Linked DNA regions of Homo sapiens. The protein of the gene in region 2 interacts with the protein of the main gene of each other region in a pairwise test. Each region holds a gene or a part of one and is shown on either strand. Other genes may lie near its edges.

Region 1 (2,584 bases), about 140 Mb from region 2:
GAAGGCAGGCTAAAAGGTTAATTCAGTGGTATGCTAGTTCTGGGGTGGGAGGATGGGGAGCCCTGATTTGTAGCGTTTACATTTCCATGGGATAATTACTACCACCCTGTCCAATTTCAAGCCACCAACGTGATATTACTGAATGCAGAACTGGGAAGAGATACACAAAATCCACATGAACCAGGGTAAGCTAGCTTCAGCACACAGCTGGTTAAATTTATGAGAAGACAGACAAGAGATGGAGAAAGTGGAAAATTGTTCTCTTGATTAATAAATTAGAAAAAAAGAAAAATTCTGATGGAGAAAGATACGGACAGTGGTCGGGAGATGAATATAAATGGAACAGAGCACACCCAGCAAAATGATACTGGGTGAGGGCAAGAAGTAAACATCAAGTAGAAAACCTCAGGATAGCTATATGCAGGATTTCTCAACCTTGGTGCTACTGACAATTTGGGCCATATAATTATTTGTTGTGAGAAGCTGTCCTGCACTGCAAGATGCTAAACAGCATCACTGGCTTCTACCCATTAGTTGCCAGTAATTCCCAAAATTTATGACAACCAAAAATGTCCCCAGGCATTGCCAAATGTCCCTTATTGGACACAAATGCTCCCAGTTGAGAATCCTTGGGTTAAGTTGTTCTCATTCTCTCCACTACTCCTCTTACACTCTTACTAGGAAATTTTACATAGTTACACATGTATAAACTCTGTTGACAGGTAATCTTATGTGAAGTCTTATGTGAAATAGGGCAATTCTACTAGAGAAGTCACCTTGCAATCTCACTTTTTTTCTTCTGCATTAGGTCAGTACAAAAAGAAGAGTTATCGTGTCTTAATTTATTGTCTTTTGCCTTTTCTATAAAATTTGTTGCTTTTCTTTTTGCAACAAGAGGGTCCTTCCTCTCTTGCAAGAAAAAAGATTGATTTCCAACTAGTTCTTTAATTTCATTACCATTAGCAGTTGTGAAGGCCATGCTGCTTTACCTGTTATGAGTGCCTACATCAACTTAGTGTAATAAGTAGCTTCTAGTACAAGAGTTATAGCAAAAAAGAAACAGGTATATCTCCTAATTTAGGATTCTCTGTCTTGGAAGAAAATACAGTGAAAATAATAAATGGCTTTCATTTTAGAAAACTCAGGGTTCAAAACCTTCCTGACATTTACCATGTGTACCCATTTCGGTCAAGGCTTCTTGTGGATACAAAGAACAGATATCCAGTCAAACTAGCTCAGGTAAAAATTGGGTTTTATTGTAGGATACACGAGGCAATTTCATAGTCATGTCATCAGAATCAAAGGCTATTCTTTTCAATGCTTAGAAGCGACACATTTTCTCTCATTTCAGCTTTCCTATCATACTCACAGGCCAATATGGCCACCACCTGCACTCTGTATCAAATTCACTCCACCCAATCTCTCAGTGATCCAATTCCACACTCTCAGAGGAGAACATAGGTTTGCCCGGCTCATCTCAGTTTAAACAGAACTCTTAGTGTCAGGCCATGCCGTGAACCACTATTTAGCCTATGGATTAAATGTACTGGAGTCGGTAGCCCATCACTATTCTAATTAGGTATGCCCCAGGTCAGCATCCTGAGTCCAAAACACAGCCAGGTTCCTCTGGAAGGGGTTGGGGAAGAGGCATGCAATAACTGAAAATTCCGGCACAGTGACTCTGAGCAGTTACTTAAGCTGAGTCTTGGTCTACCTGTAAAACAATGATGATAATAATACCTCATAGGAGTTTTGAAGATTAAACAGTATAAATGGGGCAAACTTCCAGTTTTGTGCCTGGTAGGTGCTCAAGAAACAGAACTTCTCATTTAGAACACCAGAATCAAAAAGTACTGTTAATATATTAGTAAGCATGAATCTAAAATTAAGATTATGGAAAATTTAGGGACCTGGTATTTATACTTGAAAACTCATTTACATAATGTTAATTTATCCTATTTCCTTTTTTAACTGTAAATATAGTAAATGTAAAAATGAGAGCACCCATTATCTTTCAATAACCCTCTATGTTAAAAGAATTGTTCTAAAGGAACTCTACTGGATACCTAGTTCCCTTATCTCCATACTTTATAACATACCCTGTTCATGTAATGTTCTTGCAACAAGACAAGAGTTCTGACATTCTCTATAGGTGTATGAATACCCTGCCCTGACCCTGCCTCAAACCTCCCTTTTCTGCAAGTCTGTGGTCTCCTTCAGCCAGTCAAAGTCAATCAGTAGAGATTTACAGTCTGGATTCATGAATACTGAATTGAAATTAACATTTGCGAACAGGTCCCTTGGTTTCCATTGATCTATCACCCTGGATAAATCACTGAAGATTTTGTATTTTGTTTATTTATTTAAAGTCCTTCTGGCCAGAAATACGAATATATATTCTCCCACAGAGTGATTTAATGTTTAAAATATTGATTAGTTTCACAAACTGCACTACCAGCCTATGGTCAGGTGGGTAATACCAAATTAGTGTATGATGACATTCTGGAACAAAATAATAAGAGCATTATACATAACACAGTAAGACAGAGTGAACTGGAAATGTAATTATAGAACTGTTTTGTTA
Region 2 (3,500 bases):
ACCACCACACCCGGCTAATTTTTTGTGTTTTTAGTAGACACGGGGTTTTACCATGTTGGTCAGGCTGGTCTTGAACTCCAGACCTCAGGTGAGCCACTCGCCTCAGCCTCCCAAAGTGCTGGGATTACAGGCATGAGCCACCGCGCCCGGCTAGTAATTTTTCTTTGAAGGAAGGATTATTATTATTATTTGAGACAGAGTCTTGCTCTGTTGCCCAGGCTGGATTGCAGTGGCACGATCATGGCTCACTGCAGCCTTGATCTCCTGGGCTCAAGTGATCTTCTGCCTCAGGCTCCTGAGTAGCTGGGACCACAGGTACATGTTACAGCACCCGGTTAATTTTTTATTTTTTGTAGAGGTAAGGTCTTGCTACACTGCCCAGGCTGTCTTGAATTCCTGGGCTCAAGCAATCATCCTGCCTCAGCCTCCAACTTGCCGGGATTACAGGCATGAGCCATTGCACTTAGCCATATTTCTAATGTTAGACAATTAATTCAATTAGTAGTAGCAGTAGGTGAAAAAGAGTAAAGATATGACATTTTTGAAGGCAATAAAATAATCATAACTTAAGGATAAACTATCCCATCTAAAAACAGACAAGACCAGCCTGGCCAAAATGGCAAAACCTCGTCTCTACTAAAAATACAAAAATTAGCCAGGAGTGGTGGCGGGCACCTATAATCTTTGCTACTCAGGAGGCTGAGGCAGGAGAATCGCTTGAACCCAGGAAGTGGAGGTTGCAGTGAGCCAAGAACGCGCCACTGCACTCCTGCCTGGGTGACAGAGTAAGACTCTGACTCAAAAAATAAATAATAAATAGATAAAAACAGACATTGATGGCCTTTAGGGCAGTGGGTCTCAACCCTGGCTGCATATTATAATCACCTGGGGGAACTTTTTAAAAAAATACCCATGCCCAGGGCCTCACGCCCAGAAATTATGATTTATTAGTTTGAACCATATAAAATAATGGATATTTGCCCATTTTTAACATATAATAAACAGGAATTTCACATTATCCCATCAGGTAATTAGTGGTGGATGAGAGCTGGGGCATTAAAAAAAAATCTTCTCCAGGTGATCCTCATGTGCACTCACAGTTCAGAACCACTGCTACAGATGGAGGCCAAGGAAGAGCTCAAAATTTCCCTCTCTCCTTTTCTCCTCCCCTGATCCCAGCAATGGCAGCCTTCTACCTTCGGAGAAAACTAAACTGGAGAAAACTCAGGTTTAAGGATATTTTAGCTGGGCACAGTGGTTCATGCCAGTAATCCCAGCACTTTGGGAGGCTGAAGCAGGCAGATCACTTGAGGTCAGAAGTTCAAGACCAGCCTGGCCAAAATGGCAAAACCCTGTCTCTACTAAAAATACAAAAATTAGCCGAGTGTGGTGGTGCGTACTGGTAGTCTCGGCTATTCAGGAGGCTGAGGCAGGAGAATCACTTGAACCCAGGAGAGGGAGGCTGCAGTAAGCTGAGATAGTGTCATTGCACTCCTGCCTGGGCGACAGAGCAAGACTTAGTCTCGGAAAAAAAAAAAAAAGGATATTTTATTAGTCACTGTGCAAAATTAAAGTTGAAAGCTCAGTTAGGTAAGAAAGGCCTACAGACTTCTCCCTCAACCTCCACCTCAAAAACTGTTCCTATTTCTCTGACTCACTGAAGGGATAAGATGTACAACTTGGGATTAGACTTTAGGATATACAAAAATGGAGCAAGACTTTTGGCCTGCCTTTATTCTGGGCTCTTCAGACTAAGCAAAGGGGCTCTCCATGGAGTCCTGCCTAACCCGGAGGTTGGCATTGAGATTTGAGGTCAAAGTTCTAATGAGCAATAAAATATCTGTCTGCCTTGTTCTGTTCTCCATGTACATTTCTCCAGGAGAAATAAGATGTGGTGATCCGTATAAGATGTGGTGATTGAGGAAAGGATTTGAGTACTCCTGGGCACCAAGGCCAATGCCATTATAACAGTAGTTCATGCCAGGAGCGGTGACTCACGCCTGTAATCCCAGCACTTTGGGAGGCCGATGAGGGTGGATCACCTGAGGTCGTGAGTTCAAGACCAGCCTGACCAACATGGAGAAACCCCGTCTCTACTAAAAATACAAAATTAGCTGGGCGTGGTGGCACATGCCTGTAATCCCAGCTACTCGAGAGTCTGAGGCAGGAGAATCGCTCGAACCCAGGAGGCAGAGGTTGCAGTGAGCCAAGATCACACCACTGCACTCCAGCCTGGGCAACAAGAGCGAAATTCCATCCAAGATAAAAAAAAAAACAAAAAAAACCGGTAGTTCAAACCCACCATGATTACACTGAGACAGAAAAAATACAAATCACACAATGACACATTTTATGCCTTTTCATAATCACTAAGAGAATTAAAGTGAACTAAGGAGTTCAGATACCTGCAGACACACTGAGTCAAACAAAAAACATGACGTGGCTCTCACCTCCAGCTGCCGAATTGCCGTTTCTCTTTCTTTAATAAGTTCCAAATCCTGCTCAGTGATGGCCACCTCATCCTCCTGGCTCTGCATCTGGTTCCACTCCTCATGGCTGCAGGGAAACAGGCACACTAGGTGATTTCTCCTCTCAAAGGCATAACAAGACATATCTCCAACATCTCTACTGCCAGCAGAACCTATGCAAAGACATTACCAGGGCTCCAGTCCTCTGCTATCAATAAAGTCTTGGAGGGCCACATTCTTCATATCCAGAAGCAAAGAGCTGATGATATCAGGAAAACAAAGACTCAGCTTCCATGGGCAAAGCTGACATGTGGCAGAATTATGACGGATGGGACTCCTGGCTGTTTCCATTTAGGGGTATACTCTGTAATCTCACTGGGGCTTGCCAGACAAGGAAAGTAGCCAGAGATTTGAACTCATTGAATTATGTTGCACCATCATCTTCCAGGGCACTCTCAAAGTGCAAGCTGCATTAGTACCTTCAGTACTAAGTGGGTGGAGAAGAGCAAGCTAAGTGACCTATCAGTGCTTTGCCAGTTAGTTCAACAGAATCACATCTCCTAGTTTTCCAAAATTTCCTTGGGGTTATGCTTTGGGTTAAATACCTCTTAACAGGCCAGGCGCGGTGGCTCATGCCTGTAATCCTAGCACTTTGGGAGGCCGAGGCAGGAGGACTGCTTGAGGCCAGGAGTTCAAGACCAACCTGGCTAACATAGCAAAACCCTCATCTCTATTAAAAAACAATCCATAAAAAACCCTCTTAACAGAAAGCTAGTGAAATGTTATAACACTTTTTAAAAAATTCTTTTTAGAAATGGGGGTCTTGCTTTGTTGCCCAGGCTGGTCTCAAACTCCTGGCTTTAAGCTATCCTCCTGCCTCAACCTGCCAAAGTGCTGTGATTACAGGCTTGAGCCACCATGCCTGGCTTTTTTTTTTTTTTTTGAGACGGAGTTTCGCTCTTTCATCCAGGCCGGAGTGAAGTGGCGCTTACTTCACTCCGCCCCCCGGGTTCAAGAGATTCTCCTGCCTCA
Region 3 (3,500 bases), on a different chromosome or scaffold from region 2:
TTTTAATGGAGCACACTGGAACATGTGGAATGGGTTTAGACTGGATTATTCGCTTTGTGGCGGTCTTCTTACATACATCATGCCAGCTTCTTCGTGGGGAGAGGCAGGTGAGTGGTTTTGCCCTCAGTTGCTTATAGTCTAGTTGAAGAGATAAAGTGAACATAGAGAACTGAAAAGGAACTTGCTAAGAGGGTGTTTTCTTTCATTCTTTTTGTTGTTGTTGTTTTGTTTTGTTTGTTTACTTTTTGAGACAGGGTCTTACTCTGTCACCCAGGCTGGAGAGCGGTGGTGCAATCTCAGCTCACTGCTCAACTTCACCTCCCAGGCTCAAGAGGTTCTTGTGCCTCAGCTTCCCGAGTAGCTGGACTTACAGGTGCACACCATCATGCCTGGCTGATTTAGAGGGTGTTTGCTTTCTGCTGGGCACATCCAGGCATCGTGGGAAGTGCTGTTTAAATTGGGCCATAAAAGGGTGGGTAAGGTGAGGACAGGGGACCAAGTGGGTGGGATTCAGGGTGAAGCAGAGTCATGGGGGTGGGGACAGACACGCTGATGCACATGGGAGTAGTGGATCCTCATTTACACTCTGGAAGGGAATTGTGGAGAGGGAGGTATAGATGAGGGGATGGAAGGGAAGGGCACCGGCAAATATTGTTGATAGCGAGGGAAGGGCGGTATTGTGATCGGCTTTGACTGTCAGCCTAAGGAATTTGAATTTCATTCTAGAGATCCAGGGGAGGTGTGTAAAAGACAAGATCAGAACGTTAGTTCAGGAAGCTTAATCTTTTCTGCCCCCCCATCTGAGATGTACAAGAGGGTTAGAAAGCAGAGTTGGAGAAGCTGTTTGGGAGGGAGCACTTATTTGTTTTTTTGTTTTGTTTTGTTTTTTTGAGATGGAGTCTCGCTCTGTTACCCAGGCTGGAGTGCAGTGGCGCCATCCTGGCTCACTGCAACCTCCACCTCCCGGGTTCAAGTGATTCTCCTGCCTCAGCTTCCCAAGTAGCTAGGACTACAAGCACCTGCCACCATGCCTGGCTAATTTTTGTATTTTTAGTAGAGACGGGGTTTCCCTCTGTTGGCCAGGCTGGTGTCGAACTCCTGACCTCAGGTGATGCACCCACCGAGGCCTCCCAAAGTGCTGGGATTACAGGCGTGAGCCACTGCGCCCGGCAGGGAGGGGGTAAAGTGAGAGGCATAAGGGTCCCGGCCAGGTGTTAGCAGGGGGCTTCAGAGGTGAGGAGAGAGCAGGGCAGGCAGCTGCTAGGCCTGGGGGAGCGGGCTGCGGAGGACTGAGAATCTGAGGTTTTTCTCTTGGCCGCCTGGGGGAAATCCAGGGGGAAAAGGAGAATGAGGAAGGAAGATGCGTTTGGCCTCAGACGTGTTGAAGGTATTAAGAGGCCAACAGGAAATGAGGCCATGGGCTAGAGAGAAGAGCCCTGATTCATTCCCCAAATGCCTCCCGAAATTCTGTGCGCCGAGGCTTGTGTTTGGCACTTGGAGTACAAAGATGAATTCAGCAGTCTCTTTGGTGTTTGCCTTATCAGCTAAGCTGAGAACAAGATTGATTAGTACACACTCCTCAGTGTTCATGCCTGACCTACTTTTCCTTATTTAGTAAGTTATTTTTAATAAATGTAGTAAGCTCTGGCAATCTAGGCACCCAAAACAAAAGCTGGGATCATGAAACAAAAGTATATATCTAATCTTTTTTTTTTAATTTTAAAAAACTTTAAAAAGTTTTCTACTTTATCAGGTCCCCTTAGAACATCTAATCATTTCATTTGAACTTGTTTTCTGTTCTTACCCTGAGGTAATCATTATCTCCTTTCTTTCATTTTTTTCTTAGTTTTATCTTACATGTGTATTTCTTTGTTTCTCTGTCTCTTTTTTTTTTTTCTTTGAGGCAGAGTTTCACTCTTATTGCCTAGGCTGGAGTGCAATGGCACGATCTCGGCTCACTGCAACCTCCACCTCCCGGGTTCAAGCTACTCCCGATTCTCCTGCCTCAGACTCCGGAGTAGCTAGGATTACAGGCATGCGCCACCATGCCCGGCTAATTTTGTATTTTTAGTAGAGACGGAGTTTCTCCATGTTAGTCAGACTGGTCTCAAACTCCTGACCTCAGGTGATCCACCTGCCTCGGCCTCCCAAAGTGCTGGGATTACAGGTGTGAGGCACCGCGCCTGGCCTATTTCTTTCTTTTTTTAGAGACAGTGTCTCACCTTGTAACCCAGGCAGCTGGAGTGCAGTGGCATAATCACGGATCACTGCCGCCCCAAATTCCTGGGTTCAATGGATCCATCCCCTTCAGCCTCCTGAATAGCTGGGACTACAGGCACAGGCTACCATGCTTAGCTAATTTTTAAAGTTTGTGCAGAGGCAGCTTCACTGTGTTGCCCAGGCTGGTCTTGAACTCCTGGGCTCAAGCAATTCACCCGCCTTGGCCTCCCAAAGTGCTGGGATGATAGACATGAGCCACCATGCTCGGCAGTGTTCATCTTTCGTAGCTATTGCTAGACCATTTCCTGAATGTAGTGCTTATACCAGTATCCACTTTACCAGCAGTGTCCTGTGTCTTGCAGCTCCACAGTCTTACCAACATTTGCTGTTGGCCAAGTGAATGGGTAGAAAATGGAATCTTTGGGAACTTGGTTTCTAGGTCCCTGAGCCCTGCTGCTGAATATCTCCTCTTATGTTTATTGGCATATGTGTTTCCTGTGAAATATTCATGTCTTTTGCCAGTTTTTCATTAGGGTTCTTGGTGCTTTATTTTTTGTTGATCTATAGGGCTCTTTATATATTGCTGATTTTAATCCTTCGTGTCTATTGCAAATATCTTCTCCCAGCTTTTAACCTATTATTCCTCTTTCTTTAAGGTGTCTTCTGTTGATCAGCCATTCTTCATTTTAACATAGCGAAATGTATTTTTTCCCTAGTACTCAGTTTTCTGGGTCTGGTTTGAAGTCTTTTCCTGAACATAACCCTTGCCTTTAAGGAGCGTATGCATTCTCCAGTGGAGGAGACAGATAATGGCACTGAGACGTCATGTGGGCATTGATTGTTAGAAGTGGCCACTTCTGCCTGTGGAGCGGGAGCGAACTTAGGAAAGATCTCACAGGGCAGAGTCTTGAGCTAGGAATTAAGAGATGAGTAAGTGGACAAGTGCGATGGGCATTCTCAGTGGGGGACGAAGGGCATGAAACATCCTGACCTGCCCTGGGCACTGCCAGGAGGTCCAGATGGCAGGAGCTGACGGTTTGAGGGGCTCGGGCAGGGCATCCCGAGGACAGCTTTGGGTGATCTGTATGCAAGGGAATATTGAAGCCATGGGAACAGATCCTGAGGATCCGGGGGGAATGGAGAGAGGAGGGGAGGAGGGGAGAGGGAGGCCAGGGCCTGATTCCCGGATGCAGAGAATGTTATCAACGCCCGGTGTGGCTCTGGGGAGCACCTGGGGCTTCCCAGGGGCGGGTGCTGTTGGCATGCTGCCTGCTGTGCTG
Region 4 (3,500 bases), on a different chromosome or scaffold from region 2:
TTTTGAAAGAAGTTGTGGTAAAATGCTATCAGACAGTATTGCATGCTTTAGAGAAATCTTCATTGAAAGGATGAGTCAATGCAGCAAACTTCATTATATTTTAAGAAATTGCCACAGCCACTCCAGCCTTCAGAAACCACTGCCTTCATCAGTCAACAGCCATCAACATGGAAGTGAGACCCTCCACCAGCAAAAAAAATGATGACTCACTGAAGGCGTAGATGATCTTTAGCAGGTTTTAGCAAAGTATTTTTAATTAAGGAATATATATTTTTAAGACATAATGCTGTTGTACACTTAATATACTATAATATAGTGTAAACAATTTTTATATGCAGTGGGAAACCAAAAAATTTGTGTGACTTACTTACTGCAATTGCAATATTTGGTTTATTGCAGTGGTCTGGAACCAAATTTGAAATGTCTCTGATGCTTGTACTGCTCTAATCTTGTACCTTTTAAAATCTTTCGGCTGGGTTAGTTGTCCTAGTTTCAACAGTGCTATGTATGAAATATATACATATGGTCATGAAATACATTTTTTTCCTGCAGAAGTCAAATTTTCTACTACTCTACTGGGATGACTGTGGGAATTGTGGCCTCTCTGCTAATCATCATTTTTATACTATCTAAGTTTATGCCTAAGGTAAGTATCAGAATCTTCATGTGCAGCTAGAATGAATTTGGATAGCTGAAGGACTGTTTTCCTGGGTAATCTTAGAAAACTGAAAATGTGTATTGATGGCTGATGAGTCAATATCCTACTCTCCTTGATTCAGAAAGGTACTTTCCACGATGAAACTTGGAGCCTGATTACAAATTCTTTCTTTTTATATAAAATCCTGTGCTCAGAGGGGGATTAAAGTCTGCTTCCTGTTTTTTAATTATATAGCCAGGCTTTTAAGTTATTTAGCATTTCATCTTCCCAGTGTTCGTTGCAGACTGTACCATTTTAAGTATAAAGGACATCTTTTTAAGAGAAGTGTTTTTTGTGCATTTTGAGTAGGTTGAATTTTTTAAAAAAAAAATCATAGTTCCATTTTGCTTCTTTTATGTATGGAAAGCCTGTTGTAACTTTTTGCTTTCACTTCTACTCTCTGTCTTAGAAAAGTCCCATTTACGTCATCCTGGTGGGAGGCTGGTCTTTTTCTCTGTACCTCATTCAACTAGTTTTTAAAAATTTACAAGAGATCTGGAGGTGTTACTGGCAGTATCTTTTAAGTAAGTGTTGTCGGTTTTGCTTTCCTTTTGTACGTTTATAGGCTGTTTCAGTTAATTTGATCATGAAAAGATTTTGCCTGCTTATGGGATTTAATAGTTCATGTCATTTTTTTAAACTTTTAAAAATCATAGTTTTTCACTTATTTCTAATCCCTCTACAATTATCACCTTCTCTTAAATTAGAATGGTGCTGTTAAGGCGAAGATGTTCATTTATTGGTATTTATAAATATACCTTTCTTTACACAATAAACATCTTTCTGAAAAGCTGTAAGTTGACTTTATTAATGGAATCATATTTTAAATATACTTGGGGACCTTAAGTAAAAGACTCCGCAGTTAATTTTTTTCTCCTTCATTTCTGAATGAACTGCTGTAGATTTTATTTACAAAGTAAAAATCCTTGGTCATATAGATAGTAACCTTTGAGTTATCCTTTGAAGGGTGATTAATCTGGATTTCTGTATATTGGTTTTTTAAAATAGTCTATTTCAGGGTTGTTCAACATGTACCTTTAATGTTCTGTTTGAACCAAATAAATTTGGGACAGCAGAAAGGATAGAAACTTAGAGAAATATATTCTAAGAAAAAAGTGTGAAAAATTAAGTAAAAATCTGATTTCCTAGTTCAATTGGTGCTATATAGTAAATTAACTACTGCTTCCCACACAAATTATTTTTACCAAGTATAGATGAAAAAGAATGTCTTCTGATAACTCTTCTCATAGGTTATGTCCTCACAGTTGGATTCATGAGTTTTGCAGTATGTTACAAGTATGGGCCCTTGGAGAATGAACGAAGTATCAACCTGCTGACCTGGACCTTGCAGCTGATGGGCCTGTGTTTCATGTATTCTGGCATCCAGATACCACATATTGCCCTTGCCATTATCATCATTGCTCTTTGTACTAAGAACCTGGAACACCCTATTCAGTGGCTGTACATCACCTGCAGGTGACTGAAAGGCAATGTAACTTAATATTGACAGGTACATTGTGGGATGCAGTTGCAGCAAGAGGATACAGAGGTGTTGACCTGGGAGCTTCTTTGTTAATGAAAAGTCATTGTATTGTACTTCCACTTTTGTTCCTTCCCGAGTCTATTTTTTTTTTTTTACTTTCTATAGGAATTTTTATATTTTTATTCTAGTCATTTTATATAAAATGTCTAGTAAAATGTCATGTGTTCCTGTTACCACAAGGTGGTGCAAATTCTATCACTGTTTTTTTGAGATGGAGTCTCGCTCTGTCGCCCAGGCTGGAGTGCAGTGGCGTGATCTCGGCTCACTGCAACCTCCACCTCCCGGGTTCAAACGATTCTTCTGCCTCAGCCTCCTGAGTAGCTGGGATTACAGGCATGCGCCACCACATTCAGCTAATTTTTATATTTTTAGTAGGGTTCCCCATGTTGACCAGGCTGGTCTTGAACTCCTGACCTCAAATGTCAGGAGTTCATAAAGTGCTGAGGAGCTCCCAAAGTGCTTGGATTACAAAGTGCTGGGATTACAGACATGAGCCACTGCGCCCCGCCACAAATTGTATCGCTTTTATACCGTATGCTCATTGAGGTCTCCTGGGTTCAGATTTTTTTTTTGAGACAGAGTCTCTCTCTGTCACCCAGGCTGGAGCACAATGGCGTGATCTCGGCTCACTGCAGCCTCCACCTCCCGGGTTCAAGTGATTCTTCTGCCTCAGCCTCCCGAATAGTTGGGACTACGGGTGGGCGCCACTATGCCTGGCTAATTTTTGTATTTTTAATAGAGATGTGGTTTCACCATGTTGGCCAGGGTGGTCTCAAACTCCTGACCTCAGGTGATTTGCCCACCTCAGCCCCACAAAGTGCTAGGATTATAGGCGTGAGCCACCTCACCCAGCCCATTTCAGACTATTTCTCAGTGGCTTTCAGATTGCTCTGGAGGTCTTAGTCTTATTTTAAGATGTAATTCATAGCATGTTTTGTCACCTTGCATAATAAATATGGAATGTTACTAGGTCCTGAAGTTGTCTATTATAGATAGTCAAGGTGATGCTTTCAGTTTGGGAAACCAAGTTACTGGACCACAATCTTTTTTTTTTGAGATGGAGTCTTGCTCTGTCACCAGGCTGGAGTGCAGTGGTGCTATCTCAGCTCACCGCAACCTCTGCCTCCTGGGTTTAAGCGATTCTCCTGCCTCAGCCTCCTGAGTAGCTGGGGTTACAGGTACATGCCACCATGCCCAGCTAATTTTTGCATTTTTATAGTAGAGATGGCGTTTCACTATGTTGGCCAGGATAGTCTCAAT
Region 5 (3,121 bases), on a different chromosome or scaffold from region 2:
CCCTGGGGGCGTAGTGCCCGCAGCCCCCCTGCCTGCAGCCACACAGGCCAGTTCCTCTGCTCCTCAGAGCCCAGTGCCCGGTGGGGGTTAAGATTTCCATTCTCAGGCAAGGACGGGGAAAGAAACTTGGTAAGGAGAGGTGAGGAGCCCTCAGTTGTGAGCTGAGGAATGCAGGAGCTGGGCTGGAGTCTGCCTGTTGTGGGTCAGGCACTGTCAGGGCCCCTGGGGCTCTTCAGGGTCCAAACCGGCCAAGATGGCTGCCTCCAGGACACTCAGCTCCCAGCACCCTGGCCCCGAAGCCCACCTCCTTCAACATACTACACTCCCTTGCAGAGACTGGGGCTCCACCTCAGCTTCCTCACAGCTCACATGGGCATAATCTCTTCCTTGCTCCCAGGGTGGGGAGGAGGGTTAAGGACTATGTCATAAAGGGCCTGGGTCCCTGCCTGGCACAGCAGGTGGTAGAGGTGAAGATATTGATTGTGATTGGTGTTCTGTTTTTATTTACTGCCATTATCATTGTCATTCATCATCCTCATCTGTGTTAAAAAGGTATGGGGGTAGGAAAGCCAAAGACCCATAGAGGGGAGGCCCTTCCGGGGAGACATGGGGGATGAGGCGGTGCAGTGGGTGGGGCCTGGCCCTGGAGGAACAGCTGGGGCTTTGATCTTTGAATCCTCAGATGAAGTGTTGGAATTAATCAGTGAATTTAGTGTGGTTGCTGGGTGAAAGATCAAAATAAAAAATCATATTTCAGTATAGCAACCATGAGCAATTAGAAAAATAAATTTGTAATTATACCATTTATAATGGCATGGTGTTTTGTTTTTGGTTTTTGTTTTGAGATGGAGTCTTGCTCTGTCGCCAGGCTGGAGTGCAGTGGTGCGATCTCGGCTCACTGCAAGCTCCACCTCCCAGGTTCACACCATTCTCCTGCCTCAGCCTCCCAAGTAGCTGGGATTACAGGCACGTGCTACCATGCCCGGCTAATTTTTGTATTTTTAGTAGAGACGGAGTTTCGCCATGTTGGCCAGGTTGGTCTCCATGTCCTGACCTTGTGATCCGCCCGCTTCAGCCTCCCAAAGTGCCGGGATTACAGGCATGAGCCACTGCACCTGGCCTGTAATGGCATGTTTTTAATTAGTAAAGCGCCTGCCGATTCTGGCATAGGCAGGAAGACAGGATTCTTCATGAGGCCCAGCACAGGGGTGGGCACCTGTAGAAGATGTGGTCTCTGCCCTCAGAGAGCTTAGATACTTCCAGAATCCAATGGAAAACGGAGGTGATGATATTGAATAGCTCACACAGACATTGAGCACTCACTATGTACCAGGCGCTGTCCAAGCTATTGCCCCCGCCTTTTTTTTCCTACATTCACTCATTTAGTCTCCATGTTAACCCTATGAGGTGGGGACATCCCTGGCCAGCAGATGGGGAAAGAGCGGCACGGAGAGGTGTGGTGACATGCCAAGGACCCTCAGCCAGAAGCTGGCAGAAATGGGAACCCGACCTGGCAGCAGAAGTGCACTCACTTATCTCCTGAGCTCCACCACTTTCTATGTGGCCACTTGTGTCCAGTGGGCTGACCTGAGCACCTCTCAGTCCAGAACCCGGTGCCTCCAACGCATCTCTTCTGTCCTTGCAGGCTGATCTCCCTGTCCCTCTAGGAGCCCCTCGCCCTGGAGACATCCCAGAAAACCCTCCAGAGAGGTAATAGGACCCACAGGGTCCAGGAGGGACACTGGGGCAAGGAAAAACCCAGTGGTGATTCCCTCCTTCACCCCAGCAGACCTGCGCGGCGGGAACTCCAGCAAGCCCTGGTGCCTGTGATGAAAAAGCTGGTCCCAGTCAGGAGGAGGGCCTGGGGCCAGCTCTGCCTGCCCCCACAGCGGCTCAGGTGTGCCCCCAGGCGTCTCCAGAAGGAAGGAGGTGGTCTGACATTGGGAAGAGCAGGGGCTGCCCAGACCCTGCCCTAAATGCTCTCCCACCTCCCCACCAGAGTCACTCGACATCCACTGATCCCAGCTCCTGTCCTGGGCCTGCTGCTGCTGCTGCTGCTCTCTGTCCTGCTGCTTGGCCCGTCCCCACCTCCCACCTGGCCCCACCTCCAGCTCTGCTACCTCCAGCCCCCTCCAGTGTGAGAGGCTCTACTTGCCCCTCAGAGCAGTGTCTAGCTCAATAAATCCCCTGGCCCTCTCTCCACTGGGATCCCCATTGTTAGTCCACTGTTGCGCAGGCTTACCCTAGATAGAGTACAGGGGATCCACATCCCTGTATTTTTATGTGAAGTCTCCTAGTTTTTTAATGCTGACATTTCTTAACAATAGCAAAACTCCCCCAGTAATGGATTAAGCACTAAGGATTATTCCCTCACAAAACAAGCCTGGCGAGGGCAGCTGTGGGCACACAGCTAAGTCTCGGTTGCCTTGGGGTCAGGGCCTCAGTGATTCTCCTGTCCCCTCCCTCATGCTCAGGAGTTGGCAGTTGTAGCTTCCTACATCACATCTGCGGGAAACGGAAATTTCTTCCTTCCTTTTTATAAAGAGAGGCAGTAGCCTCAGTGTGCAGTGGGTAGATTCAAATCATATTCATAATAAAAGAGAAGCAGTTGCCTGCCCAGAGCCACCAGCAGACTTGTGTTTGTTTCACTAGCCAGACTGTTTGGTGTGACCACCCTTAACTGTAAGGGAGGCTGGGAGACCTGGGAGGTCAAGTACCTCTGCGGGGACTGGGTACCTTGAAAGTGCCTTGCCACACACCTCATTCACACTGAAAAACACTGCAGGCCATGGACCTAACAAACACTCTGGGAGTCACCTACACACCACCACCAGTGTGCAGCTGCTGAGTGGCCTTGGCATGCATGGCCAAGCTGCTTCGAAGGGCTCCAGGATACCTCTTCTCCTTGATTTCTTTCTCCTTCCTACCTTCTCTACAGCTCTGCCTTGCCCTCCCCCGATAGGATCCTGACTCTGTCCTGCCACCCCTCCACGGGTAGCAGCCTAGGTTGACCCAGTCCCAACTGCATCCTAAGTCAATAAAGAACAATCTTCTTGGGCCGGGCACAGAATCACTTGAACCCGGGAGGCGGAGGTTGCAGTGAGTGGAGATTGTGCCACTG
Region 6 (3,500 bases), on a different chromosome or scaffold from region 2:
GCATACTTTACAGGAACATTAGGCCAGATTGTCTAACCAGAGTATCTCTACCTGCTTAAAATCTAAGTAGTTTTCTTGTCCTTTGCAGTATCTTATCAAACATCCATGAAGTACATCAGAACATGGGCTACTGCCCTCAGTTTGATGCCATCACAGAGCTGTTGACTGGGAGAGAACACGTGGAGTTCTTTGCCCTTTTGAGAGGAGTCCCAGAGAAAGAAGTTGGCAAGGTACTGTGGGCACCTGAAAGCCAGCCTGTCTCCTTTGGCATCCTGACAATATATACCTTATGGCTTTTCCACACGCATTGACTTCAGGCTGTTTTTCCTCATGAATGCAGCAGCACAAAATGCTGGTTCTTTGTATCTGCTTTCAGGGTGGAAACCTGTAACGGTGGTGGGGCAGGGCTGGGTGGGCAGAGAGGGAGTGCTGCTCCCACCACACGAGTCCCTTCTCCCTGCTTTGGCTCCTCACCAGTTGTCAGGTTATGATTATAGAATCTAGTCCTACTCAGTGAAAGAACTTTCATACATGTATGTGTAGGACAGCATGATAAAATTCCCAAGCCAGACCAAAGTCAAGGTGCTTTTTATCACTGTAGGTTGGTGAGTGGGCGATTCGGAAACTGGGCCTCGTGAAGTATGGAGAAAAATATGCTGGTAACTATAGTGGAGGCAACAAACGCAAGCTCTCTACAGCCATGGCTTTGATCGGCGGGCCTCCTGTGGTGTTTCTGGTGAGTATAACTGTGGATGGAAAACTGTTGTTCTGGCCTGAGTGGAAAACATGACTGTTCAAAAGTCCTATATGTCCAGGGCTGTTGTATGATTGGCTTGTCTTCCCCCAGGGACAGCAGAGCAACCTTGGAAAAGCAGAGGGAAGCTTCTCCCTTGGCACACACTGGGGTGGCTGTACCATGCCTGCAGATGCTCCCAAATAGAGGCACTCCAAGCACTTTGTTTCTTAGCGTGATTGAGGCTGGATATGTGATTTGATCTTTCTCTGGAACATTCTTTCTAATCATCTTTGTGTTCATTCCCTGAAAATGAAGAGTGTGGACACAGCTTTAAAATCCCCAAGGTAGCAACTAGGTCATAGTTCCTTACACACGGATAGATGAAAAACAGATCAGACTGGGAAGTGGCCCTTGACCTTTTTTCTTCTGTAGATAAGAGCATTGATGTTATTACGGGAAGAAGCCTTTGAGGCTTTTATGTATTCCACCTCGGTCTGGAATTTGTTTCTGTAAGGCTAACAGTTGCAATATACTAGGGTAATCTGAGTGAGCTGGAATTAAAAAAAAAAAGGAATTTCACCCCAATCTTATACTGACTTCAATAGAGGTTTCAGACAAAAAGTTGTTTTGTATATACTTATCAGTCATGAAAAGATAATTACAACTAAATGGCCTTTTTCCTTCCCTATTTATTTGGAGAAATTTAATTACATAAAAAAGTACTCAGAATATTTGAGTTTCCTGCATCAATAAGACATTTATAATAATGACCTTGTTTACAAATGAATTTGAAAGTTACTCTAATTCTTTGATTCATCAAGAAATAACTAGAATGGCAAGTTAAAATTTAAGCTGTTTCAAAGATGCTTCTGCATTTAAAAACAAATTTATCTTTGATTTTTTTTCCCCCCAGCAAATAAGACTTATTTTATTCTAATTACAGGATGAACCCACCACAGGCATGGATCCCAAAGCCCGGCGGTTCTTGTGGAATTGTGCCCTAAGTGTTGTCAAGGAGGGGAGATCAGTAGTGCTTACATCTCATAGGTCCGTAGTAAAGTCTTGGGTTCCTCACTGTGGGATGTTTTAACTTTCCAAGTAGAATATGCGATCATTTTGTAAAAATTAGAAAATACAGAAAAGCAAAGAGTAAAACAATTATTACCTGAAATTATATATGCATATTCTTACAAAAATGCAAGCCCAGTATAAATACTGCTCTTTTTCACTTAATATATTGTAAACATTATTCCAAGTCAGTGCATTTAGGTGTCATTTCTTATAGCTGGATAGTATTCCATTAGGATATACTCTTATTTAACTATTCCCCCTTTTGTAGACATTTGGATTATTTCCAACTTGTTCACAATTGTAAACACCACTACACTGAACAGCATCATCCCTATATCCACATGTACTTGTAACAGAATACAATTCCCTAGGAAGCTGGAATGCTGGAAGTCATGGTGATGTTCTCATGGTTACAGAGAATCTCTCTAAAACTAAAACCTCTTTCTGTTTTACCGCAGTATGGAAGAATGTGAAGCTCTTTGCACTAGGATGGCAATCATGGTCAATGGAAGGTTCAGGTGCCTTGGCAGTGTCCAGCATCTAAAAAATAGGTAATAAAGATAATTTCTTTGGGATAGTGCCTAGTGAGAAGGCTTGATATTTATTCTTTTGTGAGTATATAAATGGTGCCTCTAACATAAAGGGAAATAAAACTGAGCAAAACAGTATAGTGGAAAGAATGAGGGCTTTGAAGTCCGAACTGCATTCAAATTCTGTCTTTACCATTTACTGGTTCTGTGACTCTTGGGCAAGTGACTTAACTACTGTAAGAGTTAGTTTCCCTGGAAGATCTACCTCCTAGCTTTGTGCTATAGATGAAATGAAAAAAATTTACATGTGCCAGTACTGGTGAGAGCGCAAGCTTTGGAGTCAAACACAAATGGGTTTGCATCCTGGCCCTACCAATTATGAGCTCTGAGCCATGGGCAAGTGACTAACTCCCTGGGCCTCAGTTTCTCTGTAACATCTGTCAGACTTCATGGGTCCAGGTGAGGATTAAAGGAGATCATGTATTTACAGCACATGGCATGGTGCTTCACATAAAATAAGTATTTAGTAAATGATAACTGGTTCCTTCTCTCAGAAACTTATTTCTGGGCCTGCCAGGGGCCGCCCTTTTTCATGGCACAAGTTGGGTTCCCAGGGTTCAGTATTCTTTTAAATAGTTTTCTGGAGATCCTCCATTTGGGTATTTTTTCCTGCTTTCAGGTTTGGAGATGGTTATACAATAGTTGTACGAATAGCAGGGTCCAACCCGGACCTGAAGCCTGTCCAGGATTTCTTTGGACTTGCATTTCCTGGAAGTGTTCTAAAAGAGAAACACCGGAACATGCTACAATACCAGCTTCCATCTTCATTATCTTCTCTGGCCAGGATATTCAGCATCCTCTCCCAGAGCAAAAAGCGACTCCACATAGAAGACTACTCTGTTTCTCAGACAACACTTGACCAAGTAAGCTTTGAGTGTCAAAACAGATTTACTTCTCAGGGTGTGGATTCCTGCCCCGACACTCCCGCCCATAGGTCCAAGAGCAGTTTGTATCTTGAATTGGTGCTTGAATTCCTGATCTACTATTCCTAGCTATGCTTTTTACTAAACCTCTCTGAACCTGAAAAGGGAGATGATGCCTATGTACTCTATAGGATTATTGTGAGAATTTACTGTAATAATAACCATAAAAACTACCATTTA
Region 7 (3,671 bases), about 81 Mb from region 2:
GCTCAAGGATTTTCTAGGTGTCTGGCTGGTTAACTTGTTAACTTCATTTGAATGAAGATGTTTATGACTGTTTAGAGCAGATGATACTTGTATTTTAATAGCAATAGCAGATGGAATGTATTGGGGGTGCTATCTACCTTATTTCATTCATATACCTCAATACTTATTCATTCACATATATATGAATATCTTATTCGTATATATATGAAAACTTACTACATGCATTTATATTTAGTTATATATATCTCAGCATATCATATATACATATATATATCTAGTTATAGATATCTCTAGATATATCTGTCTCAGCTGCCCTAAAGGAGAAAACTAGGCCATCATAGATTCTTAACTATATAATACATTCAATGCTCTCACAATGGGATAACAGGAATGATGGTATTTACTAATGTGAACTAAAAAGGTAGGCTATGAACTGAACCCAGGGGAGGACTGAACAAACTTCAATAAATTCAGCATGTGACAAATAAATTGACAAAGACTGTAGGGAAAAAAAGGTTTATTTTCAAGGATTTGTGCAGACAATGGTGAATAAAAAATTGTATTTCAACTATAAAAAGGAGCTGACTTCATTCCACCCTGGCCTACAGGGTTTATGGTGATGCCAGTTTGAATCTGAGGCAATACTGCTATCCCCATTCCTCCACCTGTAAAAGATTCCCCCAGAGGAATAACATTCTATAACTTTTAGTCAAAAATATGTAAGACACATCAAACAAAGTAATGAGTTAAACAAGTTTCTGCTTATCTGCTTAGGGAAAGTCAAGAAATGAAACAAATGTATATTTGTTTCTGGCTGTAAATTACCTTTACCTTGTGCACTTTTTGGTACATTCTGGTATGAAAACCTCTCAAAATGTAACAACACAAGAGTTTGGGTCAAGACGACCCACCCAGGAGGCTGTAAAAACTGGTTTGAACTAGAACTGTGGAATGGAACTAGTTTAAAATATGAAGCAGCTCTAAACACCAAGCTTAGAGACATTTGCCCTATTAGAAAACAAAAATCATTAAAGCTACAAAATAACAAGTGCAAACATGCTGAACCTGTTTCCAGGGAGTGACATTCCCTTCTGCCAACAGGTCCCAAACTCACACCCACAAGGTGTAACTCTCTTTCCTGTTCCACTAGATTTCCTTTCTCTCATCTCAAAGGTCCTCAGAAATGACAATGGAAAACGTATGAATTGTTGAAATTTACCCTGTGGACCAATTCCTGAAGAGATAACAGCCACAACTCTGAGATGATTAGACATGCAGTGTTTACTTGATGACTTTCTGTATTTCTAGAAACCCTCAAAGCATTAAACTGCCTATTTCAAAATCTAAACTTCCTAGCAGCTTTTATTATTTGGAGTAAGCAGACAGAAGACAATTTACTGCCACACAGGAATCAACCACAGCTAACTTGTCCACCATTAAGTTTTACGGTAATGGACAATTCAACTGGAAGACCCATGTCTATGCTTGCTTATAATAATTTAATTTTAGACCTACTCTTTTTTTTTAAATAGAGAAGTTCTAGACATCCAACAGCTGATCCTTCCATAGATATAAGCAGGGAATGGAGAAGTCTTCCTGCCAAATGCTGAGCCATCTAAAATGGTCTGCTCAGGAGTTACTAACTCCATGGCAAAGTACTTCAGTATCAATTGCAAAGTTCTGTTTTCTTCTACTTCAGGAAACAACCTCATTTGATTTGTGGACCCTATGAACTGTCCAAACACACTGATGAATATCAGCAACTTCTCTCATTTGAATTTCTCATGTCCTTAAAGTAAATAGAATTTCCAGAGACAACTAAAGAGCAATGCAATATGAAGAAAATTAAAATTTGGCTAAGAAAAATAAGTAATCAACTAAAAATTGCCATAACACTCAGACTTAAACAGAAAATAAGTTTGTTGTCTTTTATAAGATGACAAAACTTCAATCTAACATCACAAGTTCTTATACTAGATGAATTTACTAGTATATGAATCAATATACTAGATTTCTTTCTTCTACCCCAACTGCAAATATACTAAACAATTATTTCTTCAATAGTTTCTTTTTCCCCTAGTCGTGGCATTTAAAACTGAGTAACAGTATTTAGCACTAAGTAAATTTAGAAAATATAAAAAGGTTTTACGAAATAGCAATAGTTGATTCATTTTTCATATACCATCTGATCAAGTGAAGTCTCCATTTGAGGATACTGGTGAACAGAAAGATTTTTTCTTGTCTAAGCCACTGCTTTCTGGTCTCATCACACAGATAATTCTCAAATTTTATGTAGGCCCAGATTTTCTTGGCAAAACTCTCAAGATACCAGCACATAACACAGCTACTTCATCTGTTCTCTTTTTGCAATGAGCACTATGCCTCTCTTTTATGTTCCCGGATGGGTACATGAAAGATAAATTTCTAAAGCCAAAGAATTTCTTGGCATTTCATAACTGTTTCCCACCCAGCATCCCCTCCCCAATTTGCCAGATCCAAATCAAAGAGTGAAAAGAAGTCTTGAAAATTCTCTCTCTTCAAAAGAAGTCTGAACACAGCCTAGTTCCTTCCCTAATGAGCCTCAGTTTGAAAAGATCCTGATGAGGAGCTGAAGAACAAAACAGGATGACAGGTTTTTATGAAGGAGGTATGTAATCTTATCACCGAGGGGTGTAATTTATCCGGACATTATATGCACTCTGCCAAGGACTGATTTACACATAGATCAAAGGAAGCTGGCTTTCTGTAGTCCCCTGAAGCATAAATAATGTTCGTGACCATGAGTTTTCCCCACATATAGCAGGGGCAGATGCTGTGGTGTCATCCTGGGGACCGATGATTTCAGCTGAACTCTCCTACACTGGGTTCAGGTCTCCAACAGGTTCTTCATCCCCGTCCCCTTGGTTGGCAGTTGATGACTTGGGTGCTTTGGAATTCATTTTATAAACAGGACGTAAAAGGCCATTACAACACAAGCAATTGCCACAGCAGCATGCAGCCTGGTTCCAATCACAGCGGCTAGCAGGCAAAAGAGAGAAGAAATCACACCCTGCCCTTCACCGAAGTCCTCACTTTCAAGGTGATATTTTGAAGTCTCTAGTCACAGACAGACATATCAACGCTCTCAAGGGCCTGGGATGTTTTTATTTTATTTTTGGAGGCAGTCTCACTCTGTCGGCCAGGCTGGAGTGCAGTGGCGCGATCTCGGCTCACTGCAACCTCTGCCACCCGGGTTCAAGCAATTCTCCTGCCTCAGCCTCTTGAGTAGCTGAGATTACAGGCGCCTGCCACCATGCCCAGCTAATTTTTGTATTTTTAGTAGAGATGGGGTTTCACCATCTTGGCCAGGCTGGTCTTGAACTCTTGACCTCAGGTGATCCACCCACCTTGGCCTCCTAAAGTGCTGGAATTACAGGCGTGAGCCACCGTGCCCGGCTCCCTGGCTAATTTTTGTATTTTTAGTAGAGACAGGGTTTCACCATGTTGGCCAGGCTGGTCTCGAACTCCTGACCTTGGGTGATCTGCCCTCCTCGGCCTCCCAAAGTGTTGGGATTACAGGCATGAGCCACCGCATCCGGCCTCTGAGATGTTTCTAAATGCTATCCTTATGCTTTAGGGTCTAGGTGAATATACTGTTTGTTTATATTTTGTCCTTTTTCAAAAAAAAATTT

The links.
Region 1: the proteins of STX12 (region 2) and GORAB interact in binary tests that used the Homo sapiens proteins (3 or more experiments, as listed by UniProt).
Region 3: the proteins of STX12 (region 2) and DTX2 interact in binary tests that used the Homo sapiens proteins (3 or more experiments, as listed by UniProt).
Region 4: the proteins of STX12 (region 2) and NEMP1 interact in binary tests that used the Homo sapiens proteins (3 or more experiments, as listed by UniProt).
Region 5: the proteins of STX12 (region 2) and KASH5 interact in binary tests that used the Homo sapiens proteins (3 or more experiments, as listed by UniProt).
Region 6: the proteins of STX12 (region 2) and ABCA1 interact in binary tests that used the Homo sapiens proteins (3 or more experiments, as listed by UniProt).
Region 7: the proteins of STX12 (region 2) and TMEM167B interact in binary tests that used the Homo sapiens proteins (3 or more experiments, as listed by UniProt).

The regions. Positions count from the first base shown.
Region 1 is NC_000001.11:170,549,166-170,551,749, reverse strand, and holds part of GORAB (RAB6-interacting golgin), read right to left. Parts: intron 1-2,584.
Region 2 is NC_000001.11:27,811,219-27,814,718, reverse strand, and holds part of STX12 (syntaxin-12), read right to left. Parts: intron 2,557-3,500; coding exon 2,451-2,556; intron 1-2,450. UniProt on the Homo sapiens protein: SNARE promoting fusion of transport vesicles with target membranes. Together with SNARE STX6, promotes movement of vesicles from endosomes to the cell membrane, and may therefore function in the endocytic recycling pathway.
Region 3 is NC_000007.14:76,464,709-76,468,208, forward strand, and holds part of DTX2 (probable E3 ubiquitin-protein ligase DTX2), read left to right. Parts: intron 1-3,500. UniProt on the Homo sapiens protein: Regulator of Notch signaling, a signaling pathway involved in cell-cell communications that regulates a broad spectrum of cell-fate determinations.
Region 4 is NC_000012.12:57,061,792-57,065,291, reverse strand, and holds part of NEMP1 (nuclear envelope integral membrane protein 1 isoform a precursor), read left to right. Parts: intron 1-552; coding exon 553-646; intron 647-1,106; coding exon 1,107-1,221; intron 1,222-1,947; coding exon 1,948-2,173; intron 2,174-3,500. UniProt on the Homo sapiens protein: Together with EMD, contributes to nuclear envelope stiffness in germ cells. Required for female fertility. Essential for normal erythropoiesis. Required for efficient nuclear envelope opening and enucleation during the late stages of erythroblast maturation.
Region 5 is NC_000019.10:49,415,370-49,418,490, forward strand, and holds the end of KASH5 (protein KASH5), read left to right. Parts: intron 1-304; exon of another isoform or gene 305-789; intron 790-1,645; coding exon 1,646-1,710; intron 1,711-1,786; coding exon of another isoform or gene 1,787-1,789; coding exon 1,790-1,897; intron 1,898-1,999; coding exon 2,000-2,141; coding exon of another isoform or gene 2,142-2,182; 3' UTR 2,183-2,621; downstream 2,622-3,121. UniProt on the Homo sapiens protein: As a component of the LINC (LInker of Nucleoskeleton and Cytoskeleton) complex, involved in the connection between the nuclear lamina and the cytoskeleton.
Region 6 is NC_000009.12:104,785,156-104,788,655, reverse strand, and holds part of ABCA1 (phospholipid-transporting ATPase ABCA1), read left to right. Parts: exon of another isoform or gene 1-88; coding exon 89-230; exon of another isoform or gene 231-601; coding exon 602-736; exon of another isoform or gene 737-1,039; intron 1,040-1,679; coding exon 1,680-1,783; intron 1,784-2,265; coding exon 2,266-2,358; intron 2,359-3,016; coding exon 3,017-3,260; intron 3,261-3,500. UniProt on the Homo sapiens protein: Catalyzes the translocation of specific phospholipids from the cytoplasmic to the extracellular/lumenal leaflet of membrane coupled to the hydrolysis of ATP.
Region 7 is NC_000001.11:109,093,764-109,097,434, reverse strand, and holds the end of TMEM167B (protein kish-B isoform 1 precursor), read right to left. Parts: intron 3,019-3,671; coding exon 2,936-3,018; coding exon of another isoform or gene 2,856-2,935; 3' UTR 501-2,855; downstream 1-500. UniProt on the Homo sapiens protein: Involved in the early part of the secretory pathway.